2 linked regions of the Homo sapiens genome follow. The protein of the gene in region 1 interacts with the protein of each later gene in a pairwise test. Each region holds a gene or a part of one and is shown in the gene's direction. Other genes may lie near its edges.

Region 1 (7,157 bases):
TATCTTATATTGATGAATTCCTTATATGAGGCATATACTGTATTTAAATATAGTCAACAATTTACTGCAGAAACAGAGATACAACTATAAGTGTTTATAATTCTTCGAGATAATGAAACCATGCTTCAGATGTGATTCATGGCTTCTTGGAACTGGAGGGACTGCAGACATAATGTGGTTCATCACTATTTTTCAATAGATGAGAAAACCAAGATCAAAAATAGTATGTCTTGCTTTGTATTTCATGTTTTTTATACTCTTGACTTCTGAGTTAAGTACTTGTGCACCAACTATCGCAATCACCTTTCTCTTCTTGTATTTACATGCAATGTAACAACATACAGTTTGGGCGATTAATAATATTCCTTTTTTTCTTTTAATAATAGTTATTTGTCTGAATTTAGGAAAATGATAGCAGTATTAAGCCTGAAACTCAGATCTAGTCCTAATCTGGTTGTTCTATTTTATCAAAACTATATAAAATTGATATGAACATACTGTTCACCATAATTAACTATGAACTGTACATTCAATATAACTTTTAACCATGAAGCCTATCTCAAACTTTGCGTTTGATTTTTTAAAAATATGAATGAAAAGTTGTACTAGTGATAAAGTCTTGGGAAGAGGAAGGAATAATATGAATGGCCCTGTGCCCTCTTAAAGGGGAAAAAACTGTGAAGAATTTTGAGAATGCTTTCGTTCCCTGTGGACAAATTTCTCTCTTCCAGGGAGAGACAGTTAAAACCAATCCATTGATCCATTTTTTTCGTGAACAGCCATTGCAGCAGCCACACATTGAACCCATTTGTGAGGCCTTCACATAACAAGATGTAGAGAGAAAGTCTCTTAGTTTGGATCTTTGTGTAATATTTTTCTTTGCTTTTCCCCTTTTTCCTTCTCTACCCAAATCCATTACCTCATCTTCTCTTCATACCCCCATCCCCAACAATTTGAAATAAATACTAAAGAATTGGTTGAGGAGGGGAAGGAGGAGATTGTTGGTCATTGAGGAAATATGTTTGTTGGCTAATTGTGTCTTGAGTAGCTTCAAGGATTTTTAAAGAAATACCTACTGGAAGGTGCAGCTCTCCCTCACCCACTTCTGGCTGCCTCTGAGAGTCACTGTATATATTGCACCGGGTTTCAGAAACTGGAGAATCCATTGGGAAATGCCTTTAAAATAACCTGTGAGAGAAAGAGAGCATGGCATATGCAAACCACTTTAGAGTCAAGAAGTTCTGGATGGATTGGAATCTCCTCTCAACTTGCTACCCAAGTGATCCACTGCCATCTCTGACTCCTACTTGGCTTCCACCACTACAAAATAGCAATTGTTACCTTCTCAGACTATAATAAATACGAGTGTTAAAAGTGCCTAGGAAAGTGCCTGACGCATGTTCAACTATCCAGAAATGCTAGCCATTATTAGGAATACTTTTATTATCATTATTATATTAATTATCCAGGCTTGATTGCTCTGAGTAGAGAAATAGAGGTTCCATGAAAAGCAAGGCTGAGCTGGACTGAGAAGTGCTGCTACCCATTTGAAAGCTTATACCACATGAAAGACTTTATTATTACGCCTTTTTCTGTAATCTTGAGACACATATTTTCTATCTACTGTTGTTTTAAAGGTCATCTTGAATTGATTCAGCCCCGTATCATCTAAGCACATCCCCTTTGCTAACCTGTTTATTAATATTATGATAGTTGATATTTGACAGGGCACTGTTTCAGTAATGTTAATTCATATTCAATGCAAGAAAATATAAATTCTTAGAGGAAAAGAAACTTTAGTAACTGGAGAATTTAATAGCAGTTTTATTTTAATTCTTTAGTATTTGTTATTAATTTTCTATAAATATATCCAGATGTGGGTATAGTACATAGATTCTATTAACAAATTCTAATAATTATTTGATATGTTGTCTTCTGAAATTTTCTACCTCTGGACCTAGTTTTATCTTTTCGGAAAGTATCAATCCTTTGCCTATAGTAGAAATATTTTAAATCAATTATACTGTTATACCTAGAGTAAAAGTAAGTTTGAAGTAACAAATACTCTGAGAACCAACATGCATTTTGCTTCTGTTTATTTCAGCAGGTAATTTGTTTTTCTAGCCAGGAATAAATTGAAATCCAGAAAAATTAGGTAAGCTTTATGTCTTATTTAGTGGATTTTCTTGTTTGGTCTGACCTCTCTTTTTTGCTCATGTTTTTAGGCTCAGCTATGTGAACCATGCAGAGGACCTGGCCTCCAAGCTCCTACAATGTTCCCCAAAGAACAGACTGTCGGCACAGGCTGCCTTGAGCCACGAGTATTTTAGTGACCTGCCGCCACGGCTATGGGAACTCACCGACAGTGAGTATGACAAATCCACAACATCCAGTCCAAGCAGACACATCATTTTATTTTGGCATCTGTATGTAACGTGTATGCAGAGATTCACATATTTGTGTGTCCACAAACATAAGATAATGTATGTTTGTATGTGCATTACAGGTGTGTGTGTGTGTGTGTGTGTGTATGTGTGGAGAGAGAGAGAGAGAGAGAGAGAACAGGGGAAGGGGGGCCATGTGTATATATATTTAGTGGAATCCTGCCATTCATTTGCTAGCTTACCAGACACAGGAAGAAAATGGATTCCTTTTTTGCTATCTCTGCTCTGCAGTCTGCAGCTGTGCATCTTTGTATTTGATTATGTGTGTGTCCAAAAAAATGATCTGAACAGTCATAAAGGAAAAGGAAAATATGATTTACATATTTAGTGCTTTATGCATACAGTACTTTTTAACTGGCTGCAGTACACAGAGGAGCCGATGATTCATTTCTGTTTGATTCTCAGAGACCATCTTGGTTGTAACAATAACCTTAAAAAGGGCTGCTATGCAGCGAGCTGAGGAGCAGAGTTGGCAATTGGCTAATGCACTGAATTGACATGTACAGACTGAAGACATGTAATTCATTTTAACTGCAAATGCTCTTGGTATTTGTACAGACAGCTCTTCTCTGAATCTTTTAAAACACATTCCTGGGTGGGTTTTGTTTTGTTTTTATAAAAGTCTACATATTTATACAGCCTTTTAAAATTACATTTTAAATATTTGGGGGAGGATTTATGGCTGGGAGGATCTCAGATTTCTTCCAGAGTGTGAAACAGAATTCTTGTGAAATTTTGTAAAAACTATTGCCGTCAGAATATTTTTGTTCAATGGTGATATGTTCTTTCCAAAGAACAATTAGAGATATTTCTTCTATACTCTTTTCTGATTGCCTTAAAAATGAACATACTGCATATATACATTAATATTTATAATGTGTTTATTAATCCTTGGTATACATCACTTACAGTAGACATATGATTATTTCTTCATTATCTTGGATTTTAGACTTCTTTCATCCATCATAATATTGGATTCTCCTTGATGGCAATAACCCTTTATTTTGGAACTAAGTTCTAAGTGCAACTCCTCTTGGGTATTTCTATCCTAAATCTTTTTTTGATATCCCACATTTATTTCTCATTACTTTTTTTTAACCCTAAAGTCACTATAGATATATTAATCTACTACTCCCCTTAATGCTTAGCAAATCCTCCTTAACATTTCACGTATTTCCAGCCCATGTTTACTCAACACTCTGCCCTTTCTAAAGTCTACTCACTGACTATTACAACAGCTATCCTCAATTTTTTTTAAATTAAAAATTAAATCCCTATGGGAAAATAATTTTCCTATACTGAAAACAAAAATGCTGTAAATAGGCTCACTAGTTTACGGCTCATCACACTCAAACATATGGTTTGTTTTCCCATTTAGTGTAACTTGTAACTTGGTATCACTCCTCCTTGGTGACATCTCAATCCCATCTGACTTGAAGATTGAGTTTAAGCCAGGATTTTGATGGTCTATGAATTCTGAATTCTGTAGTAGTACTTTTCTGTTAATATGGACTTATTACCCACTTGCCACTTAGTTTATCAGCCAGTGGTTAAATCCAGTTTCTATCAGTGAGTAAATGCCTACACATTATCACTCGGCAGCAGACTGCCAAGGGAGACAGCCTTGTCCCCGTCATTAACAAGCACAAAGTATGCAGAACACCAGAGGGGAATTAAAACCACAAAAAATACCTCAGGGTGGTATTTTTAATATGAGAATTTAATTTGTAATTTTACAGATTAAGAATTTTGGCTGCATTAATCCCTTTATCAGCTCACAGCAGGCTATTTGCAGAAGCATAACCGTAAGGCGATATTCATTGGCAGAAACACGTCTTTGCATAACGTTAAACATCAGGAGCAGTGAAACCTTTTGAAGGGGGGAGAATAAAGATGAAAAATCATTATATTTTTAAACCAAGATTCTACTAAATGCCTCCGGTAACAATTTTGAGTTACAGAAATGCTATTTCTGTGTCTAGAAGATAATCATTATGAGGCATAAATCCAGTTGCAAGAAAGGACAATCCCAGTATTAAATACTATAGTCATTTCCATTTAGAACAACGTGGCTGTACTTGTAAACATGTTTACAAAACAAAGAATTCCCAGACTTTGGAGACTTAGGGAATTGGTTTCTTTAAGTGAAATGACTGGTTTGGGTGACTTATTATCTAGGTTAGTATTCTGCAGAGTATATTTAGAAGTTTTTTAAATTTTTATAATTAAATTTCATATTAGCATAGAGTCTTGTAAAAGTTCACCATCTGGCAAAGGCAGCAGTGGCAGTGGCAGCAGTAGCAGCAGCACCTGTAATACCCTTACGTATTTCTTTTTTAAGGAGATTTGGAAGGAGATCCACCTGGAAAGAAGTGTTACAGAACCAGTAAATGGATTGTCTTAGCAACCAAGCTGTAGTTTAGGAACCTCGCTGTCTTAGTTTGGTCACACTGCAATAACAAAATACCTTAGACTGGGTGGCTTAAACAGCAGACATTTATTTCTCTTGGGGATGGGAGGTCCAAGATAAAGGTGCCAGCAGATTCGGTTCCTGGTAAGGTCTTTCTTCTCAGTTTGTGAAGGGCACCTTGCTGTGTCTTCACAGGGTGGAGAGAGCAATCTCTTCCTCTTCTCACAAAGCCATTAATCTCATCATGAGGGCCCCTCCCTTATGAGTTCATCTAACCCTAATTACCCTCCTAAGGCCCCATCTCCAAATGCCATCACATTAGGGGTTAGGGCTTCAACAGATGAATTTGAGGACGGACACAATTCAATCCATAGCACTCTCATTCTTAAAGATGGCTCATAGCACTTTCTAAAGAATTTCCACAAGAGGAAAACACTTATGCAAGCAGGAAGCAAAGTCAGGTTAAAAGGAGAAGATGGGAACAAAAATAAGTTACAAGTAGATTTGAGCCTTCTTGGCCTAGTGTAATATGTCAGACCCCATGAGAAGGGCATCAAGTGTGGTTGGAGCCTGAGTAACACAGAGCCCTGCAGTCATTTCATAGATTCGTACAAAAGTGAAATTACGGGCTTATGTCAGACTCTGGCTTTGGAAGAATACATAGTAATGTAATATCTTTCTTTAGTATACTATTCCTTAAAACCTCATCAGGTTACATAGTACCAAAATTTAGAGGTAATGTATTAGTGTGGCACTGAAGCAGGAATTATAAAAGCAGAAAGCAAGAATAATGGTACAGTTATCTGGGGATCTGGCTGTTAAAGCTGGCTAATTCTGGTGGCACCCTGTCATTCTCCCTCTGTCCTGAAACCCCAACAGCTTTGTCCCACTTCTTCTCAAAGATTTAATTGCAGGGAAGTAAATGGAGGGCTGATTTAGAAGAAATTCATTACTTTTCCCAAATACACCACAGGGCATTCTCCTGCATATACTATCAAGTTACATAAATAATTGAAGCTGAACTACCCTTGTCAAAGTAAATGAACAAAATACACTTCATAGCACAGAGTCCTTGATTTTATTACACTCATTTGCTAATTCACAAAACTCAAATTCAGTGAAAGAAGGCCAACAAATCGGTACAGTGTGAAGAGCACTGAACTGGGAATCAGACCACCTGGATTGCAGCTTCAGCTCCACTGTTAACTAGCCAGGGAACTTTGGACAAGTGCCTTGGTCTCTCTGAGCTTCCCATTTCTCACTTAAGGAGCAAGTGAGGTGGGCACAGTAGTCTCCAGGGACCTTTCTAGCTCTAGAGTTTGTCGATTTTCCCACATATTCCTGTATATGTTCTGTATATCATCCTAGAACAGCATAATGCTCTTAATGTAGCTCTATGCTGTCTTTTTAAAAATAAAACAGGTGCACCCATTTCAGATTTAAGATTTGCTACCTTCAGTTCGTAGACTTTCATGCTGTTTTGAATCCTTTACAACCAGGCTTTTGTGTCCACAACGCCTGGCTTTCGAAGTCTCTATCCATTGGTCTTTTCCCAGCCTATCGAAGATTCAACACAATTGACAACCATCTCCTCCTACTAATACTTCTTTCGCTTGGTTTCCAGGACAGTATTCTCTCATTGCTTTCCTTTAGTTTAGAAAACTAAAGTCTCCTGTTCACACTCCTTTGCTGATTTCTCCTCATCTGCCAGACCTTTCACATTAGAGTGTCCTGGGGCTGAATCCTCAGATCTGTCTATCTGCATGGACTCCCTGGAGCCTAGATGATCTCATCCCATCTCATGATTTAAATATCATCTATACACTGGCAGTTTTCAAATATCCATCTCCAGTCCTGTCTTCCCTGACTTGACTTGCATATCCAACTGACACTCAACATTTCCATTTGACCATCTAGTAGGCCTCTCACACTTAATCTTACCAAAACTGAACTCATCTTTCCCCTCAAACTTGCGCCTTCTCTAGTCTTACCGTTGTCAATAAATAGCAGCATCATTCTTCCAGTTGATGGAAGGTATCCCTAATCATCTTTTTTTGGTTCTACTCCACATTCAGTTCTTCCACAGACCGTATTGTTGCTACCTTCACAGTATATCCAGGATCACGCACGCCACTCCTCACTTCACTGCTATCACGCTGCCCTCAGTCACTCACCATCTTTCACCCACATTTTTACAGTTGCCTCCTACCTGGTTTGCCTGCTTCTCTTCTTGCCTCCTTAAAGTCAGCTCTCACTGTTTCTTCTTCTTATATTTTGTGCTTGCTCTCCCTCTAGACATACGC
Region 2 (2,921 bases), on another chromosome or scaffold:
CATACTCCCTGGCTTCAGGCCCAGAGGAGAAAAAGGGAAGACAGGGTCATAGTCTATCAGACCACCCTGACCTCTACTGACCTCAGCCTGCCTTTCCCCTCTCCCCTTTATTTTTTTTCCAAGGGCTCAGTTGGGAACTTTTTCTCAGTTGCTCTTCCAGAGCCACCTTCCCTTTTTACAGGATTCATAACAAGCCAAAGAACTCATGGTAGTCCAAGCAAGGAGGTTTCACACTATGCTCTGAAAGCCCCGGGGTGGAGGCAGAGGGGCTAGTTGGCAGGTGACACAAAGTTGTCTGTGCAGGAGGATGACTGAAGACTTCTCAGTTGCTGCATTACAAGTTCCTTGCAGCAGCTGTACTGCATATCACCAACCTGTATTAGAATAGAGTGGCCATCTTCAAGCAGAACCATCATACATTCTAAGAAATTGGCAATTGAGTGCCAAAATGTTAGCATGAAGCAAGTTCAGGAAGGTCCAACCACCCAACTAAGGACCACTAATCCTACCATCTCAGGGACATCCATTTCCAACCTCAGTAAAGTTGTCATTAGTCTAACTATGCATTCCATCCTAACCTATCTGTTCTGAGGGATTCTGACACACCCCTCTCCTCCTTGTGCCCCCACAATGCTTGCCTCATGGTACCCCTGTACCTGGTACCACACACTCATACAAAGGAGAGGTGAAGGAGTTTAGAATTTATGCTCCTCAGTATTAAGCTCAGGGTTGCTTCCTCCTAAGCCAGACATACCCCTGACTCCCCACAGTCCTCTTGGCTACAAGGGCTCCCATTGAGATAAAGATTCTCTCACTCTCAGAGACCACCCCCATTGGTCCAGTGAAGGGAACACATGTCCCATCTCAAGTGCATAGAGCGTGACCAAGTGTGGAAAGCCTAGCCTTTGGGCAGACTCTTTCCAGGGTTATGGCCAGAACATTTTCCAGAGGCTACAAGGGCAAAGGGTACCCCTTTGGGGTCAGAGTGTGTCAGCTAAAGGGGCAAAACACAGAGCCTGGTCTGGGGCAAAGTTGATGTCTACCTGTGCTTTCTTTAGCAGATCAGATATAGGAGCACACCAGCCGGGCATGAGCCTCTCCAGCTCTAAGGTGATGATGACCAAGGCCAGTGTGGAGCCCTTGAACTGCAGCAGCTGGTGGCCCGCCATACAGTGCTGCAGCTGCCTGGTCAGGGATGCGACGTGGAGGGAAGGATTCCTCTGAGGCAGCAGCTCCAACACATGGGGCCAGCTCAGGACCACCAGGGCATGGAACTGGAGACCATGGTTTTTAATGTTAGAACAGAAAACGCCATACTTTTCCTATATCAATGATCAAAAGTGCAAACAATTTAAATTTCCATCAGGGAACATCAAATGTTGCCCAACCCTTTTCATTCCTATCCATGGCTCCGTAAGGGGCTTGAGGCTTAATGCCCATCCTGTGGCCAAGCTGAGCTTCCACTCCGGGACCAAAAAAAAAAAAAAGTCTGCTTTGTGACATCATCGTTATGAGCGGAAAGTACCTAGATGACAATGTTTCCATTCTGAAAAATAGAAACATACTATTCAAGACCAAGGTAGCAGAAAAGTTACTTGTATCTGCTTATCATAAGACGAAACTCTGCAACTTGGCAACGGTGGCCAGTTTTCGTAATGAAACAGTCTTTAGTAATTTAATCTTCATGCTTCATAACAAACCAAAACCCCATGAGATTTCCACATTGCATAATTTTGCCTTACTAACAGAATCATATCCTTAAGGATGACCATCATTCCCCCAACTAAAACAAATACAAACTAATGTATGATATTTTTTTAAGTGCCAGATCAATATGGTCTAAAGCTTCAATAAGGATTGTGTGTAGGTGAATAAAGACAGCTAAGTGAATGTGTGTAAAGTGTAGCAAAAGCAGACAGATATTTATGTACAGTATTCATAGAATGGAAAGTTAAATATTTTTGCAGTGTGTATTTAAAAGAGAAACTCACCATAATAGTGCCGTCTAAAAATCTTTGTAAAGTTAATTTAATGTCCTTTAGAAGTGGGAGTCTGGTGGAACTGTGTTGGATTTAAGATACCTTTTCACTCTTCCGTATGTCATGAGCCTTGTGCGTCACCTCACTGTGGTGCATGTGCAAGGGCGTGTGCACGCCTGTGCTTTGCCATCCCATGTTGTAAACAGCTGTTCCAAAGGCACAAACGAGTTTAGGGTAGACTCTGTAAACACCTCCTTACTCACTATAGTCAAGAAGTCCAGCGGCGTCCCAATATAGAGGTCCCAGTGCAGTCTGTCCAGAATAGCCAGCTCCATCCTCAGCAGCTCATTCGGGGAATAGTCAGAGCCATAGTGCTTTGTGAAGTCTTTTACTTGTGGAATAAACTGTAAAAAGAAAATAAAGAGGCCAAAGCCCTACATCATGTCATAGTAGCTTTTGTTTTCTTACCCATGGGGACTGGGCATTCATGACCTTAGTGGAGTTGTCTTCCTGTGGCCTGCCACAGAAAATGCTTCTGAAAGAAATACTAAACCAGATCTTGGCTATCTGTCAAATCCTCAGGTAGTTATGTAGTGAACATCACATGGTCCCCCTCTGAAACCGGGTCTTGATCCCCCAGCTGCATGCTAGCTCATACCCAAAGGTGCTTTGGAGGCTGGGGCTGTGCCATCTCCCCTGTTCAGCTGCAAGAACTCACCCCAAGCTTTCCAGGAGCCATGGGTTCTGCCTCTCCCTATTCCTGATCCCTACCGTGGGTACTGGGCATAGAGAAAAAAACTATGCTTTTGAGCTTCCTAGTCTGTACCAGACACATTGATAAAACCTCCTATGGGTTTTTTAGCATCGCAACTGCAAACACATTTCCTTCAACCTTGATTGAAGGTGGTTCAGTTCTGGAAAAACTATGGCTTTTCCCACAGA

Evidence for each region. Proteins that work in one complex are often made in the same cells at the same time.
Region 2: the proteins of CDK14 (region 1) and SEPTIN8 interact in a two-hybrid assay, tested with the Homo sapiens proteins (one study listed by BioGRID).

What each region holds. Positions count from the first base shown.
Region 1 is NC_000007.14:91,110,317-91,117,473, forward strand, and holds part of CDK14 (cyclin-dependent kinase 14), read left to right. Parts: intron 1-2,225; coding exon 2,226-2,365; intron 2,366-7,157. UniProt on the Homo sapiens protein: Serine/threonine-protein kinase involved in the control of the eukaryotic cell cycle, whose activity is controlled by an associated cyclin.
Region 2 is NC_000005.10:132,750,319-132,753,239, reverse strand, and holds the end of SEPTIN8 (septin-8), read left to right. Parts: exon of another isoform or gene 1-269; coding exon of another isoform or gene 270-374; exon of another isoform or gene 375-1,043; coding exon of another isoform or gene 1,044-1,058; coding exon 1,059-1,224; coding exon of another isoform or gene 1,225-1,322; 3' UTR 1,323-2,116; coding exon of another isoform or gene 2,117-2,383; 3' UTR 2,384-2,421; downstream 2,422-2,921. Other genes in the region: CCNI2 (cyclin-I2), read right to left, coding at 270-374, 1,044-1,322, 2,243-2,383. UniProt on the Homo sapiens protein: Filament-forming cytoskeletal GTPase. May play a role in platelet secretion. Seems to participate in the process of SNARE complex formation in synaptic vesicles.